Linked DNA regions of Homo sapiens: region 2 is linked to region 1. The links come from fine-mapping of genetic effects on gene expression. A gene starts in region 1. The other region holds a variant in brackets. All regions are shown on one strand. Distances are from middle to middle. Region 1 holds the start of ACP1 (acid phosphatase 1). Region 2 overlaps LOC105373351 (a long non-coding RNA gene).

Evidence for each region. PIP is the estimated chance that this variant, and not a neighbour inherited with it, causes the effect.
Region 2: its variant is the best candidate, but not a certain one, in a credible set for the expression of ACP1 in tibial artery (GTEx, PIP 0.59).

Annotation. Positions count from the first base shown.
Region 1 is chr2:262,176-267,411 of GRCh38, reverse strand. ACP1 (acid phosphatase 1) reads right to left here and starts at 2,465. Exons shown (of 6, transcript NM_004300.4): 1 at 2,405-2,465. The coding sequence starts at 2,447. SH3YL1 (SH3 and SYLF domain containing 1) reads left to right here and starts at 3,380. Exons shown (of 10, transcript NM_015677.4): 1 at 3,380-3,428. The coding sequence starts at 3,428. RefSeq lists an enhancer at 2,355-2,404 and silencers at 2,755-2,834, 2,905-3,484.
Region 2 is chr2:386,583-391,818 of GRCh38, reverse strand. It overlaps LOC105373351 (a long non-coding RNA gene), which reads right to left. Exons shown (of 3, transcript XR_922703.3): 3 at 4,542-4,728. Among named protein-coding and RNA genes, the nearest start is that of LINC01865, 73 kb to the right of the region's middle. The variant TACAC/C (reference allele first, on the strand shown) is at 2,083.

The sequences.
Region 1 (5,236 bases):
CCATTCCCCTTTTCTGCTCTATTTTTCTTAATCTTCACATCAACCGATTGAGCACATCAATTAATACTTGCTGGTGACTGAGAGAACGTGAGCTCCAGAGAGGCTGGGATTTTTGTCTGTTGTGTTCACCACACCACTTAGAGGAATGCATGCCATATAGTAGATGCTCAACAACAACAAAAAATCACTGAATTGTATTGAAATACAATAGTCCCCTCTTTTCCAAGGTTTTGCTTTCCATGGTTACCCCATGGTCAGCTTCAGTTGGAAAATATTAAATGAAGAATTCCACAAATAATTCCTAAGTTTTAAATTGTGCACTGTTCTGAGTAGCAGGATAAATTCTCATGCCATCCCATTCCGTCCTGCCCCAGAAGTGAAACACGTCTTTGTCCAGCATATCCATGCTGTCTATCCACCTATTGCCCTCTAGCTTATCAGATCCATTGTGATGCTATCACAGTGCCTGAGTTCGAGTCACCCTTAGTTTACTAATAATGGCCCGAAATCATAAGAGTAGTGAAGCTAGCAATTCAGATACGGCAAAGAGAAGCCATAAGCACTACCCTTAAGTAAAAAGGTGAAAGTTTTTGACTTCTTATGGAAAGAAAAAAAAAACTTATACCGAGGTTACTAAGATCTACAGTACGAACAAATCTTCTATCCATGAAAATGTAAACAAGGAAAAAGAAATTCCTGATCGTCTGCTGTCTTGCCTCAAACTGCAAAAGTTGCGACCACAGTTTTAAATGCTTAGTTAAGGTGGCAACGGTATTACATTTGTGGGTGTAAGAAACGAGCAGACACATGTTCCAATTGACAGCAATTGGGTTTGGTACTACCCACAGTTTCGGGATCCACTGGGGAGTCTTGGAATGTATCCCCTACAGCTAAAGTGGGACTACTGTATATGCAAGGATACACTTCCCCATTAACAGCAACCATGATGCATTATGCCAGCATAATCGACAATACCAACCAAAACTATACAAGGGAATGGAATATTATTTAGTAACCATCCTTAACCAAACTACTGTTTAATAAACTTATTGATTTCATCATTCAGCCTTCAATGAGTCTTAAAAATCAAATGATGCCCACTACCAATGTGAAACAAGGTAAGCCTTCTAATTCGTCTTTCACAGAAGTTAACTTCTACAAAACCTAGTCAGCGTTTATCATATATTGTCCTAAAGCTGAAAACAAAATGAAAAATAAGCCACAGTTATTGCCATCGACAAAATTAAACTCAGCTGGGATTTCAACAGACTATCAAATAATTATAGTAAAATTTGTGTAATAAAAGATGTCGATAAGGAATCACACCTTTTCTGTATTACATCTTTTACTATATTACACAAATTATAGTAAAATTTGTGTAATAAAAGATGTCGATAAGGAAGCAACTCATGATCTGGGAAAGCAAAGGAGGAAATATTTAGGTTTGACTTTATAAAATAAAAAGGCTTTCCAGGCAAAATGCATAATGGGCACCCAGCGATGAAGGCTCAGTAAGCATGTGAAGTGCTACCGAACAACGAAAGGTTCTGGAAGGCAGTGTCCCGAGGGTGTGAGCAGGAAAAGGTACAGGAGATAAAGTGAGGAGTCTGTAAAAATAAACAGAAACTGCAGGAAATGCAAACTCACAGAAGGTTTTAAGTAACCGGACTACTGACAATTTAGGCCTTCCTCTCAGGGTGGAGGCACCGAGGAATATAACCTTGTAGTGCTACACCAAAGGAAGATCCCTGAAGACCAAACGGAAAATAAATTATGTTTGAAGTAAGGCAAGCTAAGTGTTGAAATTCTAGGAGTGAAAATAATTTAAGCTGGAAAGTTCCTGAAAAGCCATTAATAAAATACACTTTCATTTTTCATGGGCCAAAGTTATATAGGGACCTCCAGGTCTCCTTTGCTTGGCTTTTACAATCAAGAAACCCGAAACCGTAAAACTTCATCTCCCTTTAACTCAGATCCCTATCTAAGCATGGGCTAAGGAAACTAGCAAACAAAACAATGTTGTCATAGGACTCAGGAGGCCCCTAAGAGACCACATCAGTCCGACAACCTCCAGGCCTACCTGGGCCCATTGGAGGGGAACGAGAGGGATTCTAGTAGTCGCAAAGAAAGTACCTTGGCTTGTAGGGGCTGTGGCTGCAGATGCCAAGAGCCCCGGATATATGGCAGGCGCGAGGGGACCCAGGTTTAGCGGGCAGGCTGGGCGGGTGCACGGGGCGGATGGGGAACAGGGGCGCTGCGGCACACTCCTAGAACACCCTAGGCCTCCCAGTCCCTGGCCTCCTCCCCCTCATGGTTCCTAGGCCGGCGGCACAACCTACAGCGCACAAGCCCGATCCAACTCTCCAGAGGACGTCAGAACATGAGTAAGTCGGCGCCCTCTTACCCAGACACACAAACAGCACGGACTTGGTAGCCTGTTCCGCCATCTTCCCGCGCGCAGAGGCGCCGAGACACCGCGGCGTTCCGCACGCCGACGCGGCGCAGGCGCACTGCCACCCTCTTGCCCCGCGCGCCTGCGCAGTCCCGCACCAACGCCAACAGGGCAGCGCGTGTGAGAGCCACGCCTGCGCAATCGGCTCCAGTGCGCCTGCGGAGGCGGTCCTATGACGGTAGTAGGACGGGCGGGGAGGGTCCGCGGGTCACCTGCAGGGACTGGGCCGCCGTTCACCTGCAGGGGCGGGGCTGCAGGTTGTCCGGAGGAGGAGGAGCTGCGGGGGTGGGGTCACCTGGAGGGAGTAGGGCCGCGGAAGGCGAGGGGGTGTGTGTGTGTGGTGGCGGGGGTTGGCGGGGGGGAGTCACCTGGAGGGGGCGGGGCTGCGGGTCGCTTGGAGGGGAAGGAGCCGCGGGAGGTAAAGGTTACCTATAGGGGACGGGGCCGCAGGAGAGGGGTACCTGGAGGAGGAAGGGCCGCGGGTCACCTGCAGGGCGGGCTCAGGCCTCGCGGCTCCGCGGGCCGCCCACCTGGGTTGGGGCACAGCGCGAGTCTCGCGCACGTGGCGGGCTGTGGTGCCTGTCGTTCGAGTTCGCATAGAGGGGCTGGGCGGGTCACGCGGGGAACCTGCCTTGAGCCCCGCGGGGTCCACGCCGGACCAGGGCGGCCTTGGGCCTGGGCGCTCCCTGAGACCCCCACCCCCAACACCGTGCTTGGAGCCGCCGCGGGGCTCTGGGCTTTTCGATCTTGAGGACGGGGCGGTTCCGAAGTCCCTGAGGGCGAAGGCCTGAGCGCGGCCCGGCGGGCGCGTGGTTTTTGTCCCGCGAAACGTACACGGCGGGTGTTTTGCGCCGCCTCCTTCGTCACCTGCCGCAGGTACGCCCTCGCTGGGGCCTCCTTGTCCGCGGGGCGGGGCAGCGCGCCTTCCTCTTCCTGGGCAGCCTCGGGACGGGGCGCCGCGGCCGGGCGGGCAGCAGTGAGTACCCGGGGACCCACCTGTCCGGCAGCACCCTCCCCTCTCAAGAGCTGGGCGGTGGTGGGAGGAGGAGGACGGGAAAACCGGCGATGCCTCTGGGGTTTCTAGGTCGCGCGTCTGTTAACCGCAAACCGCCCAAAGTTAAGATAGAGCAGCTTCCAGGACTTTCTTGACCACAGCGATTTTGATTGAAGTTTAGCCACCGTCTTTTCCATTTTTAGAAAAGCTATTCCGAAGTTTGGAATGATGACGATGGTCGTGTTATTTTTAACTTCCTGATATTTGAACGGCGAGGTGTCAGCGACCATCCTTCCGTTCCACAGAAGCGTCTCTGAAGTTTGGGTCGAATGCGCGCGCTTGGAATGTGCGTGGAACCCGCGGCAGGCGCGGGGAGGAGGCCTTGGCTAGGGCGCCGGCGAGGTTCGAGTTTGCCAGCCCCCCAACCTGGAAGAGAAGGGCCAGCCCCTCACACCCGGAAGGGAAGGGCCGGTCCCCCCAACACCTGGCGCCGGGGTCGCGGGGCCACAGGGCGAGCGCGGGGTCGCGGCGAGCACGGGTCCTCTCTGATCGCTGGGCCTTGGCGCTGGCTGCTGAGTTTTTCCTTCTTTAAGGAAGTGTGGAACTGGTCTCAATCGGTTGACCACCTTAAGGAAATAGGATTTACACTGTGGACAGAGATGTGTCCTTTACACTTCATTTGAACCAATATGCCCATGCTCCTGTGGAGGCTGAGTTGGAAAGTGACACGAAGCTGCCCCCCCGCAAGAGAGCAGGTGCTCGGTTTCTCTTCTGCTTACAGGAGATGCATGTCCTGATTTCTTGTTCTCCTAGGTGTTTTTATTGAGATGTAGGGAATATCTGAATTCATAACGACTTAGAAAATCTGTACACACAGTTGAGAGAACAGGTCTCGAGGCTAAGGTGCTGTTTACTCCCGTGGGCTGGCCTGTTATTAAAATACTTGTGCAGCGACTGATGTTTACAAATTACTATGTTGGAGGTTAAAATGATCAAAGTGATAACCTCCATCCTGTCTATCATGTTTGAGGAGAATTGGTTATTTGGTTCACTAATGTTCTGTTTAAAGAAAATTTCTGTAAAACTAGTAAATGTTACCCCTCATCTTTTGTAAGTTAAAAAAAAGTTTAAAATAATGTTTGCTCATCAAAAGTGATTTGATACTTTTGTTCTGTTTAGGAAAACTTTATTCTCAAGAGATTTCTCATTCCGCAGAAATAAGGATCTGGCATGTCAACACAAACATAGGAAGTTGAGGCAGTCAAAGGGAAATAACTGCTACCCTGACTCTGCTGAGAGCCTCACAAGTCCCTGTGCACGCCAGCTTGTTTGCCAGTGAGTGGCGTCATGATAAGACAAAATTCTCTGCTCTGAGACCTAAGCACATGAAGTTTTTAAAAAAATTTTCTCTGAGAAGATCCCATTTTTTACTCTAAAAGATCAGACCAGTGTGGCATGTGTGGAACTGCTCTGTACCAAGATCACACTCTTCAGTTGGAGAAGAGGAAGGGCAGGAATAAATAAAGGGCTTTCCTGTCTCCCGAGGGAGCAGAGAAAGCTTTCGCTGTCCTCTTCCTTCCCCAGCCACAGCCTGGGGTTGGGGGACTGGAAACAAGCTCAGGCTAGCACTTGATGTTCAGACGGTAGTCTGAAAGTTTGACTAGGGAGTTAATGATCTGACCAGAGAGACAGGTTTTTATTTTGAGAACTGACAAGCTTTGTGTCCTTAAAACAAAGGAAGTAGTTAAACCAAGGCCCCAGAAAGGTAAGAATTGACTTAAGAAACAAAG
Region 2 (5,236 bases), 120 kb before region 1:
AAAAAGTACCCCAAAGTGTGAGGGCCTTCCCTCTGCCGCACATCATCGAGAACACCAGGAACAAGCCCAGAATGTTAGACAGCATACAGCGCAGCTGGAACCATCTCTCCACCCACATCACCGAGAACCCAGGATGTTAGACGGCACACAGTGCAGCTGGAACCATCTCTCCACCCACATCACCGAGAACACCAGGAACAAGCCCAGAATGTTAGACGGCACACAGCGCAGCTGGAACCATCTCTCCACCCACATCACCGAGAACACCAGGAACAAGCCCAGAATGTTAGACGGCACACAGTGCAGCTGGAACCATCTCTCCACCCATATCACTGAGAACACCAGGAACAAGCCCAGAATGTTAGACGGTACACAGTGCAGCTGGAACCATCTCTCCATCCACATCACCGAGAACGCCAGGAACAAGCCCAGAATGTTAGACGGCACACAGTGCAGCTGGAACCATCTCTCCACCCACATCACTGAGAACACCAGGAACAAGCCCAGGATGTTAGACGGCACACCGTGCAGCTGGAACCATCTCTCCACCCACATCACTGAGAACCCAAAATGTTAGACAGCACACAGCACAGCTGGAATTATCTCTACATCTCAGGAACACCTCGGGGGTGGCCGTCGCTTACTGGAGCATTCACCTGCAAGACTCCACAGGGCCACTGAGGACTCGACTCAGTTCCACTGCTGATGAGAGTGGCGTTCTTCCGTCTGAAATCAGGCATCCATCCCTGCCCCACGACGACAAGCACGGAAGTCCTGGCAGCCCTGGCACCGGCTCTCGCCTGAAACCCTCACAGAGCCGGCTCTGGAATGCTGCTCTGTACTGCACCCTCCAGTTAATCCCATTCCCAACACATGTCCAGGAAAGATGATAAACAAAGTGAATATCCATGCAAAAGAGATCACTTAAAGGTCTATTTAAATTGTGTGCTCTTCTCTTTTATTTTCCTTCATATGTGATCTTTCCCCTAGTCATACAGAAATAGCCATTTGCTCAGGGAGATGTGATTGTCAGGGTGGAAATGCAAATTAAAGGAAGAGGCATCACTGCCGCCCTGACTGACGGAACGAGATAACTGAGTTCCCACCAAAACACGTGTAAAATCATGGCTGTAAGGAGAAAAGTAAGTGGATAAATAAGTACTTGTATGAACTCACACACACACATACACACGCATGTACATATACACATACATATGTACTATCTAAATCCCTTGAACACCCACACACACATACACACACGTGTACATATACATACGTACTGTCTAAATCCCTTAAACACACACACACAAGCACATGTACATATACATATGTACTGTCTAAATCCCTTAAACATGCACACACACACGCACGTGTACATATAGGTATGTACTGTCTAAATCCCTTAAACATGCACACACACGTGTACATATACGTATGTACTGTCTAAATCCCTTAAACATGCACACACACATACACACATGTGTACATATACGTATGTACTGTCTAAATCCCTTAAACACGCACACACACATACGCACATGTGTACATATACGTATATACTGTCTAAATCCCTTAAACACGCACACACACATACGCATGTGTGCATATACATATGTACTGTCTAAATCCCTTAAACACGCACACACATACACACATGTGTACATATACGTATGTACTGTTTAAATCCCTTACACACACATACGCATGTGTACATATACGTATGTACTGTCTAAATCCCTTAAACACGCACACACACATACGCACATGTGTACATATACGTATGTACTGTCTAAATCCTTAAACACGCACACACACATACGCACATGTGTACATATACGTATGTACTGTCTAAATCCCTTAAACACACACACGTGTACATATACATATGTACTGTCTAAAGCCCTTACACACACACACGTACATGTACATATATGTATGTACTAAATCCCTTAAACACGCACACACATATGCACGTGCACATATACGTATGTATTGTCTAAATCCCTTAAACACGCACACACACATATGCACATGTGTACATATACGTATGTAGTCTAAATCCCTTAAACACGCACACACACA[TACAC/C]ACACGTGTACATATACGTATGTACTGTCTAAATCCCTTACACACACATATGCATGTGTACATATACGTATGTACTGTCTAAATCCCTTAAACACGCACACACACATACGCACATGTGTACATATACGTATGTACTGTCTAAATCCCTTAAACACGCACACACACACGCACATGTGTACATATACGTATGTACTGTCTAAATCCCTTAAACACGCACACACACGTACACACATGTGTACATATGCGTATGTACTGTCTAAATCCCTTAAACACGCACACACACATACGCACGTGTACATATACGTATGTACTGTCTAAATCCCCTAAACGCGCACACACATACGCACATGTGTACATATACGTATGTACTGTCTAAATCCCTTAAACACGCACACACACATACACACGTGTACATATACGTATGTACTGTGTAAATCCCCTAAACACGCACACACACATACGCATGTGTACATATACGTATGTACTGTCTAAATCCCTTAAACGCGCGCACACACATACGCACGTGTACATATACGTATGTACTGTCTAAATCCCCTAAACGCGCACACACATACGCACGTGTACATATACGTATGTACTGTCTAAATCCCTTAAACATGCACACACACATACGCACGTGTACATATATGTATGTACTGTGTAAATCCCCTAAACACGCACACACACATACGCATGTGTACATATACGTATGTACTGTCTAAATCCCTTAAACGCGCACACACATATGCACGTGTACATATACGTATGTACTGTCTAAATCCCTTAAACACGCGCACACACATATGCACGTGTACATACACGTATGTACTGTGTAAATCCCTTAAACACGCACACACACATACGCACGTGTACATATACGTATGTACTGTCTAAATCCCCTAAACACGCACACACACATACGCACGTGTACATATACGTATGTACTGTCTAAATCCCTTACACACACATACGCACGTGTACATATACGTATGTACTGTCTAAATCCCTTACACACACATACGCACGTGTACATATACGTATGTACTGTCTAAATCCCTTAAACACACACACACACATACGCACGTGTACATATATGTATGTACTGTCTAAATCCCTTAAACTTCTCTTGACATACCAAGAGCCAGGCCTGGAGGAGTTTTCACAAAGTCCTGGGTGGAAAACTGGGGATGTGATCAAGGAAGTGTCCTGCCCAGAAAGTCCCTGATGGAGAAAGATGGAGATGGACGTCTGGAGTGAAAGAAGGTGGGACAAGGAGCTCACAAGCCGGGTCTTTTCTTTCCTGATGCTAAGGACGGAATCTAAAGGCAGAGCATTCAGAGCAGGGCCTCGGAGCGGCTGCGGGTGCCTTGTGGGTGCCTGTCGGCCAAGCCACAGCCCCGGCTCAGACCTGCAGCCGCCTCTGAGTCAGCATTCCTAAGTAAGTCAGGGGGTTCCAGTGGAGACCACGTGCAGTGGCTGAGGAGGCCGTCTGGGGTGTCGAGGCTTTGCTCCAGAGGGTCCCCAGCCAGAGGCAGTGGCAGGAGCACAGTGTGCTCAGCCCCCAATGGTGCCCACCTGCCAGGAGCCACCAGATTTCAGAGACCAGATCCCGGCCTCCACGGCCAGCCCAGACCCCGGCCTCCACGGCCAGCCACAGACCATCCCAGGACCCCCTCTCGCCCGCAGCAGGGAAGAAGGAGCTGCAAGAGGTGGAGTATTCGCCCCTGGAAGCTGAGTCCGCCTGAAACTCAAAGAACCTGAAATCCTCGTAGTAGCTTCTGTCTCCTCCAGCTGCAGCCAGTGTGTGAGGAGGAGTCAAGCACAGAAAAGCAAAGAATACATGAGGAAGCCGACCATAAAATTATAAAAACTTGGATTCTTCTTCCTCTCAATGAAGGCTTAACACCTATGTGACAATAGGGAGTTATGCTTATAATCGAGTTATAAACATGAAAAGCAGATAGGTAGTCGCCTGTATGTTATAGAGATGACTATACAGATATGTAAGTGTAGAGAAGAAATTTAAAAATTACACTGAAATATTCGCGACGGTTGAATTATGATGTTTGTATTGTTCAAGGTGATTTCATCTTTTTTTCTATTTTGTATAGTTTTTATAATATGAAAATAACATTTCTTTGAGTCTGCATTTTCTCCTGAAAATCAGTTTCATATACATAAAGTTAATTTTGCTTTCCTCCCAGAAGTTGTCTTGCTATTTAGACTTATGATCAGCTATTTCCTCCATCTCAGACAGGGACATTCACAGAAAAATATTAAGAAATTTGACTGATTACCTTGGTGTGCTGGACAAGTCAGAAAAACCCTTTGGCTATAATAAAATACTTTGTTTTATTCAGTTGTAGGTGATAGTTGGTCTAGAATTTTTTCTTTTTAAACATATTTTGAATTTTACTGAAAACTCCTAGGAATACACAGTTAATGTTGAGTAGGGGAGCTACACAAGGATGTAAAATTTAACCAAATCATCTGATTGTGAATTCAAAAATTAAAAACTTACCATGGGTCCCATGAGGAGCCAATTCCACTCCATAGTCTGAATTTTCTAAATAGGAAACTGACAAGTCGGGTAAAGTGATTGCAGTTGTCCTGATCTTGTTGATATTAGTTTCAAAAAATCACTGTTTGGAGAAAGTGAAGGGGGGAAAAGCTGGAGTGGATGCAGAGAGCGGTGAGGGGGGCAGAAGCCCAGGACAGAGAAGGGAGCAGGGCAGAGGCGACAGGGGAGAGGGGAGAGGGAGAAGGCAGAGGGGAGAGGACAGAAGGGAGAGCGCAGAGGGCAGAGGGGAGAGGGCAGAGAGCAGAGGGCAGAGGGCAGAGGGGAGAGGGCAGAGGGGAGAGGGCAGAGGGCAGAGGGCAGAGGGGAGAGGGCAGAGGGCAGAGGGGAGAGGGGAGAGGGGAGCGGGCAGAGGGGAGAGGGGAGAGGGGAGCGGGCAGACGGGAGCGGGCAGAGGGCAGAACCTGGCTCCTGCTCTCAGGTAAGTGGTGAGCAGTGGGGCGCCTGCAGGGAGACCCCTCTTGCTGATTTGCAGGATGGAGTGAAGGCCACTCAGAGCCACCCCAGGACAGAGGACAGGAGTCTGAACCGCCCCCCATGGAAGGGGAGCCAGGGAATGGGGAGGAGTTGGG